Linked DNA regions of Homo sapiens: all the other regions are linked to region 1. The links come from fine-mapping of genetic effects on gene expression. A gene starts in region 1. Each other region holds a variant in brackets. All regions are shown on one strand. Distances are between the middles of the regions. Region 1 holds the start of ABCC2 (ATP binding cassette subfamily C member 2). Region 2 overlaps ABCC2 (ATP binding cassette subfamily C member 2). Region 3 overlaps COX15 (cytochrome c oxidase assembly factor COX15).

Region 1 (2,768 bases):
TCCCCAGTTTAAAGGACAGAATAGTTCCCTGGGATATAAAAAATTATTCAAGTTTCTAGCACTAACTGAACTCACTGGCAGATATTCAAACATGCAGGCGCCATGCAGGGAGAATGCTTAGTCATACTGTAACATTTGCTCTCTGATGGCCCAAAGCGCTTACATTAAAAACCTGGCCAGTTTCAGCACAGCAGTGACAACAGCATTGTTGGACAGAAGGCTTCCAACCAGCAAGTTTTGTGCAGTCTTTGCATTCTGCGATAAATGGAAGTGTCTTGTGAAGTGGAAGTTGGGGGGTGGGGGGTGGGCACCAATTCTTGTATCTGAGTCACATGAGTGTGGATTTTTCTTTTCCTATAAATAGTTAAAAATTGTTTTATATGATTATTTATACAGACTCTTTAAAGAATTGCTTGCGATGCCCTGACCAAGAAAGTTTGTCAGGTAGTTCTCAGAAAGAATTCTCAAGAGATGGCCTGTCTAGATACTATAGCCCATGAAGATCCACCTTGCCGTGGTATACACTCCTGGCCTCGAGGGTCTTGGGACCCAGGTCCTTTCTAAGACACGAGGTGCTGCCCAGGTGCTCTGCTATCTCATCCCTGCCCCTCTCACCTCTATATAAGGTTATCAAATGTTAGAATTCAGAAGAATCACTTAAGATACTTAAACTACATTTATTGCCCCAGGTGATTCTGATGCTGAGGCTAGGAGTTTGCAGATGATACTTTCTCACCAAACCCTTACTAAAATCACTAAATCTAAGGTCCTTTTTTGTTTTCTATTCCACTAGACCTTTGATACTGTTGATTGGCCCCTATCTTGAAATTTTTTGCTATCTATGACTCCGTAATGTTACACTGTTCTTGTTCACCCTCTAAGTGGTGTCTCTTCTTTTCCTTAAAAACAATATTACCCAACTCTAGTTGTTCAAAAATTATTTCAATGCTCATGATGCCCAAAGTTGCATCCCTAGACTCAACTTCTAGTCCATATCATTAGTTGCCAGTTCTAGAACTTATCATTATCATTTCAACATCAACATGTCTCAGCAAGACTCAGTCACGGATCTTCTCTTCCTTCTACTAGCAAAGTATGCAACAACAATTCTCCTTCCTCACACGGATTAAATTGGAAGGTTTTTACCTGTTTCTCTTTAGAGAAGGCAATTTTGCGACTAGCTAGTACAAGAGTCTGATATAAAAAAACATATGACAGAGAATAATTTGCATTACATTTCCCAGATCTTATATCCTCTGGAGATATTATGAATTATGCTTTCTAAAAAGCCTGAGCTTTAGACCAATTGCACATCTAACATTTCTGGTTCTTGTTGGTGACCACCCTAAGTTAACTAACTACCACTTGTTCTGAGTCTGAGAAGAGTCAATATGAAGATAAATGTAATTTCTCACCCAAAAAGTAGAGTTGCAGAACTTCTCCAGCATGATTCCTGGACTGCGTCTGGAACGAAGACTCTTCTATTAATATGATTGTGTTGTTTCTTCTTTACTTGTTTCATCAAAGAAAGTGGAACAGGAATTATCTACCATTCTGATGTTCTCCGTAAAGGATGACCTTTCATCCCAACCATTTAATCGTTAACCTTGCCTAGATGCATGTTACATTGAAACAGTGGATGGACATGTGACTAAAAAGCCCTAGGGACAGGGAGACTCACCAGTTCCCAAAGTACAAGAGGCCTCTGTAGGAGTGGCCATACATAAAAGGAACCACTGAAAGATGTCAACAGAGCTGGCCAACAAATCAAGAGTGCACAGTCTTTCATTTTCCTAAGGACATATGACCCACAAAGGGCAGCATCAGTAGAGGGGCAGGCACCCCTAAATGTGCAGTTTCGCTTCTGCTGCAAGATCTTAGAGTTTATAGAAATGTGAAATATCCTTCTTCCTTAGATTTTTAATTAAAAATATAGAATCTAAAACATGGTTTAAACATGATGTAAACTTTCTTTGAAGAAGTCAGGTTATAAAATAGCTTATCCAGTGTGAGCCTATATGTTATATACATAATACAGGCTTTCAAAAGTTCTATTTGCCTGAGAGGTAGTATGCCAAATGGGAATGAAGCCTTTGCCAGGCATTGTAAATATGATATCATGATAAAACATCAGGGCCAGAGGAGAGGGGTGATTCTGTAAACAGAGTGGTGGCATCAGTCGCTAGAAACTGTCATCGACCCAACCTTTTCTTTTTTTGTTATTGTTTTTTGTTTTTTGAGACAGGGTCTTGGTCTGTTGCCTGAGCTAGAGTGCAGTGTTGCCATCATGATTCATTGCAGCCTTGACCTCATGGGTTCAAGCGATCTTCCTGCCTCAGCTTCCTGAGTAGCTGGGACTACAGGCACATGCCAACAAGCCCAGCTAATTAAAAAAATGTTTTCTGTAGGGACGGGGTCTCACTATGTTGCCCAGGCTGGTCTCAAACTCCAGGCTTCAACAATCCTTCTGCCTTGGCCTCCCAAAGGGCTGGGATTGCAGGCATGAGCTACCGTGCCCCACCTGACCCAACCTTTTGTACTGTCACTTAAATTGCTTTAAGAACATGCTTTTTTCATGATATCATGAACCACCCATGCGGTATCCTAGCTAAAACATAACCACCCATGCAGTATCCTAGCTAAAAAAAATTGGCCTTAAATCTGGTCAAATTCTAGATCTAACTACCGGATTATAAGAAACACAGGAACATGCTAAAGGACTCCATTGGAATGCAATTGTCAAAATCCAGAATGTGGGAGATTCTATA
Region 2 (2,768 bases), 39 kb before region 1:
GAACCTTTAGAAAATGCTCTAACAGTATTTACTGATGGTTCCAGCAATGGAAAAGCAGCTTACACAGGGCCGAAGGAACGAGTAATCAAAACTCCACATCAATCGGCTCAAAGAGCAGAGTTGGTTGCAGTCATTACAGTGTTACAAGATTTTGACCAACCTATCAATATTATATCAGATTCTGCATATGTAGTACAGGCTACAAGGGATGTTGAGACAGCTCTAATTAAATATAGCATGGATGATCAGTTAAACCAGCTATTCAATTTATTACAATAAACTGTAAGAAAAAGAAATTTCCCATTTTATATTACTCATATTCGAGCACACAGTAATTTACCAGGGCCTTTGACTAAAGCAAATGAACAAGCTGACTTACTGGTATCATCTGCATTCATAAAAGCACAAGAACTTCATGCTTTGACTCATGTAAATGCAGCAGGATTAAAAAACAAATTTGATGTCACATGGAAACAGGCAAAAGATATCGTACAACATTGCACCCAGTGTCAAGTCTTACACCTGCCCACTCAAGAGGCAGGAGTTAATCCCAGAGGTCTGTGTCCTAATGCATTATGGCAAATGGATGTCACGCATGTACCTTCATTTGGAAAATTATCATATGTTCATGTAATAGTTGATACTTATTCACATTTCATATGGGCAACTTGCCAAACAGGAGAAAGTACTTCCCATGTTAAAAAAACATTTATTGTCTTGTTTTGCTGTAATGGGAGTTCCGGAAAAAATCAAAACTGACAATGGACCAGGATATTGTAGTAAAGCTTTCCAAAAATTCTTAAGTCAGTGGAAAATTTCACATACAACAGGAATGCCTTATAATTCCCAAGGACAGGCCATAGTTGAAAGAACTAATAGAACACTCAAAACTCAATTAGTTAAACAAAAAGAAGCAGGAGACAGTAAGGAGTGTACCACTCCTCAGATGCAACTTAATCTAGCACTCTATACTTTAAATTTTTTAAACATTTATAGAAATCAGACTACTACTTCTGCAGAACAACATCTTACTGGTAAAAAGAACAGCCCACATGAAGGAAAACTAATTTGGTGGAAAGATAATAAAAATAAGACATGGGAAATAGGGAAGGTGATAACGTGGGGGAGAGGTTTTGCTTGTGTTTCACCAGGAGAAAATCAGCTTCCTGTTTGGATACGCACTAGACATTTGAAGTTCTACAATGAACCCAT[C/T]GGAGATGCAAAGAAAAGCACCTCCGCGGAGACGGAGACACCACAGTCGAGCACCGTTGACTCACAAGATGAACAAAATGGTGACGTCAGAAGAACAGATGAAGTTGCCATCCACCAAGAAGGCAGAGCCGCCAACTTGGGCACAACTAAAGAAGCTGACGCAGTTAGCTACAAAATATCTAGAGAACACAAAGGTGACACAAACCCCAGAGAGTATGCTGCTTGCAGCCTTGATGATTGTATCAACGGTGGTAAGTCTCCCTATGCCTGCAGGAGCAGCTGCAGCTAACTATACCTACTGGGCCTATGTGCCTTTCCCGCCCTTAATTCGGGCAGTCACATGGATGGATAATCCTATAGAAGTATATGTTAATGATAGCGTATGGGTACCTGGCCCCACAGATGATCGCTGCCCTGCCAAACCTGAGGAAGAAGGGATGATGATAAATATTTCCATTGGGTATCGTTATCCTCCTATTTGCCTAGGGAGAGCACCAGGATGTTTAATGCCTGCAGTCCAAAATTGGTTGGTAGAAGTACCTACTGTCAGTCCCATCAGTAGATTCACTTATCACATGTCTGCAGGTGTACCCAACAGCTCCGAAGAGACAGCGACCATCGAGAACGGGCCATGATGACGATGGCGGTTTTGTCGAAAAGAAAAGGGGGAAATGTGGGGAAAAGCAAGAGAGATCAGATTGTCACTGTGTCTGTGTAGAAAGAAGTAGACATGGGAGACTCCATTTTGTTATGTACTAAGAAAAATTCTTCTGCCTTAAGATTCTGTGACCTTACCCCCAACCCCGTGCTCTCTGAAACATGTGCTGTGTCAAACTCAGGGTTAAATGGATTAAGGGTGGTGCAAGATGTGCTTTGTTAAACAGATGCTTGAAGGCAGCATGCTCGTTAAGAGTCATCACCACTCCCTAATCTCAAGTACCCAGGGACACAAAAACTGCGGAAGGCCGCAGGGACCTCTGCCTAGGAAAGCCAGGTATTGTCCAAGGTTTCTCCCCATGTGATAGTCTGAAATATGGCCTCGTGGGAAGGGAAAGACCTGACCGTCCCCCAGCCCGACACCCGTAAAGGGTCTGTGCTGAGGAGGATTAGTATGAGAGGAAGGCATGCCTCTTGCAGTTGAGACAAGAGGAAGGCATCTATCTCCTGCCCGTTCCTGGGCAATGGAATGTCTCGGTATAAAACCCGATTGTATGTTCCATCTACTGAGATAGGGAAAAACCGCCTTAGGGCTGGAGGTGGGACAAGCAGGCAGCAATACTGCTTTGTAAAGCATTGAGATGTTTATGTGTATGCATATCTAAAAGCACAGCACTTAATCCTTTACCTTGTCTATGATGCAAAGAACTTTGTTCACGTGTTTGTCTGCTGACCCTCTCCCCACAATTGTCTTGTGACCCTCTCCCCACAATTGTCTTGTGACCCTGACACATCCCCCTCTTCGAGAAACACCCACGAATGATCAATAAATACTAAGGGAACTCAGAGGCTGGCGGGATCCTCCATATGCTAAACGCTGGTTCCCCGGGTCCCCTTAT
Region 3 (2,768 bases), 68 kb after region 1:
ACTTCATGGTTGCTGAGTGGTTCTAGAGGAGATACATGTAAGGTGAGTTAGAAACCTGGCACTTCTATCTAATGTGATAGACTCTTTCTTCCCTGCAGGGAATCACTTCAGTCACTGCCATTACAGTGCTCTACTTCCTCTCTCGGAGAATTCCCCTTCCTAGAAGGACCAAGATGGCAGCAGTGACTCTGCTGGCTTTGGCGTATACACAGGTATAAACCACTTCTTTTTGTTCTGACAGTATCCCCAATACAAAGTTAAAAAAGGGGCCGGGCACAGTGGCTCATGGCTGTAATCCCAGCACTTTGGGAGGCCTAGGTGGGCAGATCACTTGAGCCAGGAATTCAAGACTAGCCTGGGCAACATGGCAAAACCCCATCTCTACAAAAAAAATACAAAAATTAGATGGGCATGTTGGTGTGTGCCTGTAGTCCAAACTACTTGGGAGGCTGAGATGGGAGGATCACCTGAGCCAGGGAGGTTGAGGCTGCAGTGAGTCAAGATCGCACCGCTGCACCCCAGCCTAGACAACAGAGTGAGACCCTGTCTGTTTAAAAAAAAAAAAAAAAAAAAGGAAAGGTGACAGACTAGGAGAAAATATTTTCCATATTTATAATAAATTAAAAGATTAATAACCGGAAAATAAGTAAAGGACATCAATACACAATTACCACAAAAACAATGATTAATGGCCAGTAAACATGAAAAGCTGTTCAGCTTCACTTATAATCAGAGAGGAGCAAATTTAAAAAATAAGTACCATTTTGTGCCTATCAAATTGGAAAAAAGTGAAAAAAAAGATAATCAGGTATTGCCATGGGCATAGGAAAATGGATACTTTCAAATATTCCTGGTGAGAGCATGAGTCAGTACAGTTTTTTCCAGAAGGCAATTTGGCAATATCTTTTTTTTTTTTTTTTAGAGATGGAGTCTCACTCTGTCACCCAGGCTGGCAATATCTTTTAAAAGTTAAATGGGTAATTCTTTGGCCCAGCAAATGAACTTATTAGTGTCAGTCCTAGAAACAGTCCAATGCAACAAAGACCTTTTGTATGAGAAAATTCATCATAGAATTGTGATAGTGAAAAATTGGAAACAACCTAAATAGTTAAAAAACTATGGGCCGGGCACAGTGGCTCACGCCTGTAATCCCAGCACTTTGGGAGG[C/T]CGAGGTGGGCGGATTACCTGAGGTCAGGAGTTCAAGACCAGCCTGGCCAACATGATGAAACTCTGTCTCTACTAAAAAATACAAAAATTAGCCAGGCGGGGTGGCACACGCCTGTAATCCCAGCTACTTGGGAGGCTGAGGCAGGAGAATTGCTTGAGCCCTGGAAGTGGAGGTTGCAGTGAGCCAAGATCATGCCATTGCACTCCAGCCTGGCAGACAGAGTGAAACTCTGTCTCAAAACAAAACAAAACAAAAAAAACTATGGTATATCCATACTGTGCGATACTGCACAGCAGTTTAATAAGATCTCAATACATAGTGTATATTGCTAAGTGAAAAAAAGCAAGTGACAGAACAATATGTTTTTTAAAAGCACAAAACTATATATTTATTTCTCTATAAACATACTAAAGTACAAGTATGCAGAAACTGGTAACAGTGACTACTCTGGGGAACTGGGATGGATTGAAGAATAAGGGGAATTTTAGGTTTATCAATTTTGTTCGAATTTCTTTCATTGTAAGCATATTTGCTTGTGAAATTAAAAATGTGTGTATTTTAAGTGCTCTGATAGGAGGATGTGGAGGTTTGTGTGTGGTTATCCACGCCTGGCCATTTTCAATGTGAACTTTGGGTTACTGCCTTTCCTATTGCCTTCTTTCCTTTGTGACAGGTGGGCTTGGGCATCAGCACGCTGCTGATGTATGTCCCAACTCCTCTGGCCGCCACTCACCAGTCAGGCTCCTTGGCTTTGCTCACTGGTGCTCTTTGGCTGATGAATGAACTCCGAAGAGTCCCAAAATGATTCTTAGAGGACCAGCCTCCTGGGACTGTGACTGCTTTTGAGAGCTCTTCAGAGATCATAAGAACTTGGGCTTTTCTACGAGATGACCTTGACATACCAAGTGGTTTCCAAATGGTCAACTTACTTAAAAATCTTTTCCTGTTTTGAGATAGTCACTGGATCAAGAATGCATTAAGTGTGGTTACCCTAAATGTTCCCTTTTAAATCTGCTTTTCATGTTGAAAATCAGTTTTAATGTAGAGAAAGAAATGTCTGCCATTTGCTGCTTAACAGGCTTTGTGTCAGGTTTTTCAGTGTTGGCAAGCTCTTGGTTCTACGTGGATGATTTCTACGTGGATGTTCTCCTGAGTCCTTAATTCTGCCTAAATAGAATTTCTTTATGATCTTAACTTCACTTCCATTAGGTGAAGATTGAAAGGATAGGATTGACATACCCAAAGTAGCCAGCTGGTCTTCAGCAAAAAAAAAAAAGCTAATGTCTTCTAATATCCTGATTTTCAGAAATGGGGAAATTGCAGATTTTGACAAGCTTAATGTGTATATGTAGCAAAATGGTTTTTAAGTACTTGGAAAAGGAGGTAATCGCCAAATAGTTCCATTTTTTTTTTTTTTTTTGAGACAGAGTTTCACTCTTGTTGCCCAGGCTGGAGTACAATGGCGTGATCTCAGCTCACTCTGCAACCTCCACTTCCCAGGTTCAAGCGATTCTCATGCCTCAGCCTCCCGAGTAGCTGGGACTACAGGCACAAGTCACCATGCCTGGCTAATTTTGTATTTTTAGTAGAGAAGGGGTTT

The links. PIP is the estimated chance that this variant, and not a neighbour inherited with it, causes the effect.
Region 2: its variant is the best candidate, but not a certain one, in a credible set for the expression of ABCC2 in whole blood (TOPMed, PIP 0.70).
Region 3: its variant is the best candidate, but not a certain one, in a credible set for the expression of ABCC2 in whole blood (TOPMed, PIP 0.53).

What each region holds. Positions count from the first base shown.
Region 1 is chr10:99,781,525-99,784,292 of GRCh38, reverse strand. It overlaps ABCC2 (ATP binding cassette subfamily C member 2), which reads right to left and starts at 1,653. Exons shown (of 32, transcript NM_000392.5): 1 at 1,416-1,653. The coding sequence starts at 1,448. RefSeq lists an enhancer at 1-455.
Region 2 is chr10:99,820,914-99,823,681 of GRCh38, reverse strand. All of the region lies in intron 19 of ABCC2 (ATP binding cassette subfamily C member 2), which reads right to left. Among named protein-coding and RNA genes, the nearest start is that of ABCC2, 40 kb to the right of the region's middle. The variant C/T (reference allele first, on the strand shown) is at 1,213.
Region 3 is chr10:99,713,792-99,716,559 of GRCh38, reverse strand. It overlaps COX15 (cytochrome c oxidase assembly factor COX15), which reads left to right. Exons shown (of 9, transcript NM_078470.6): 8 at 99-212; 9 at 1,842-2,768. The coding sequence ends at 1,973. Among named protein-coding and RNA genes, the nearest start is that of COX15, 17 kb to the left of the region's middle. The variant C/T (reference allele first, on the strand shown) is at 1,168.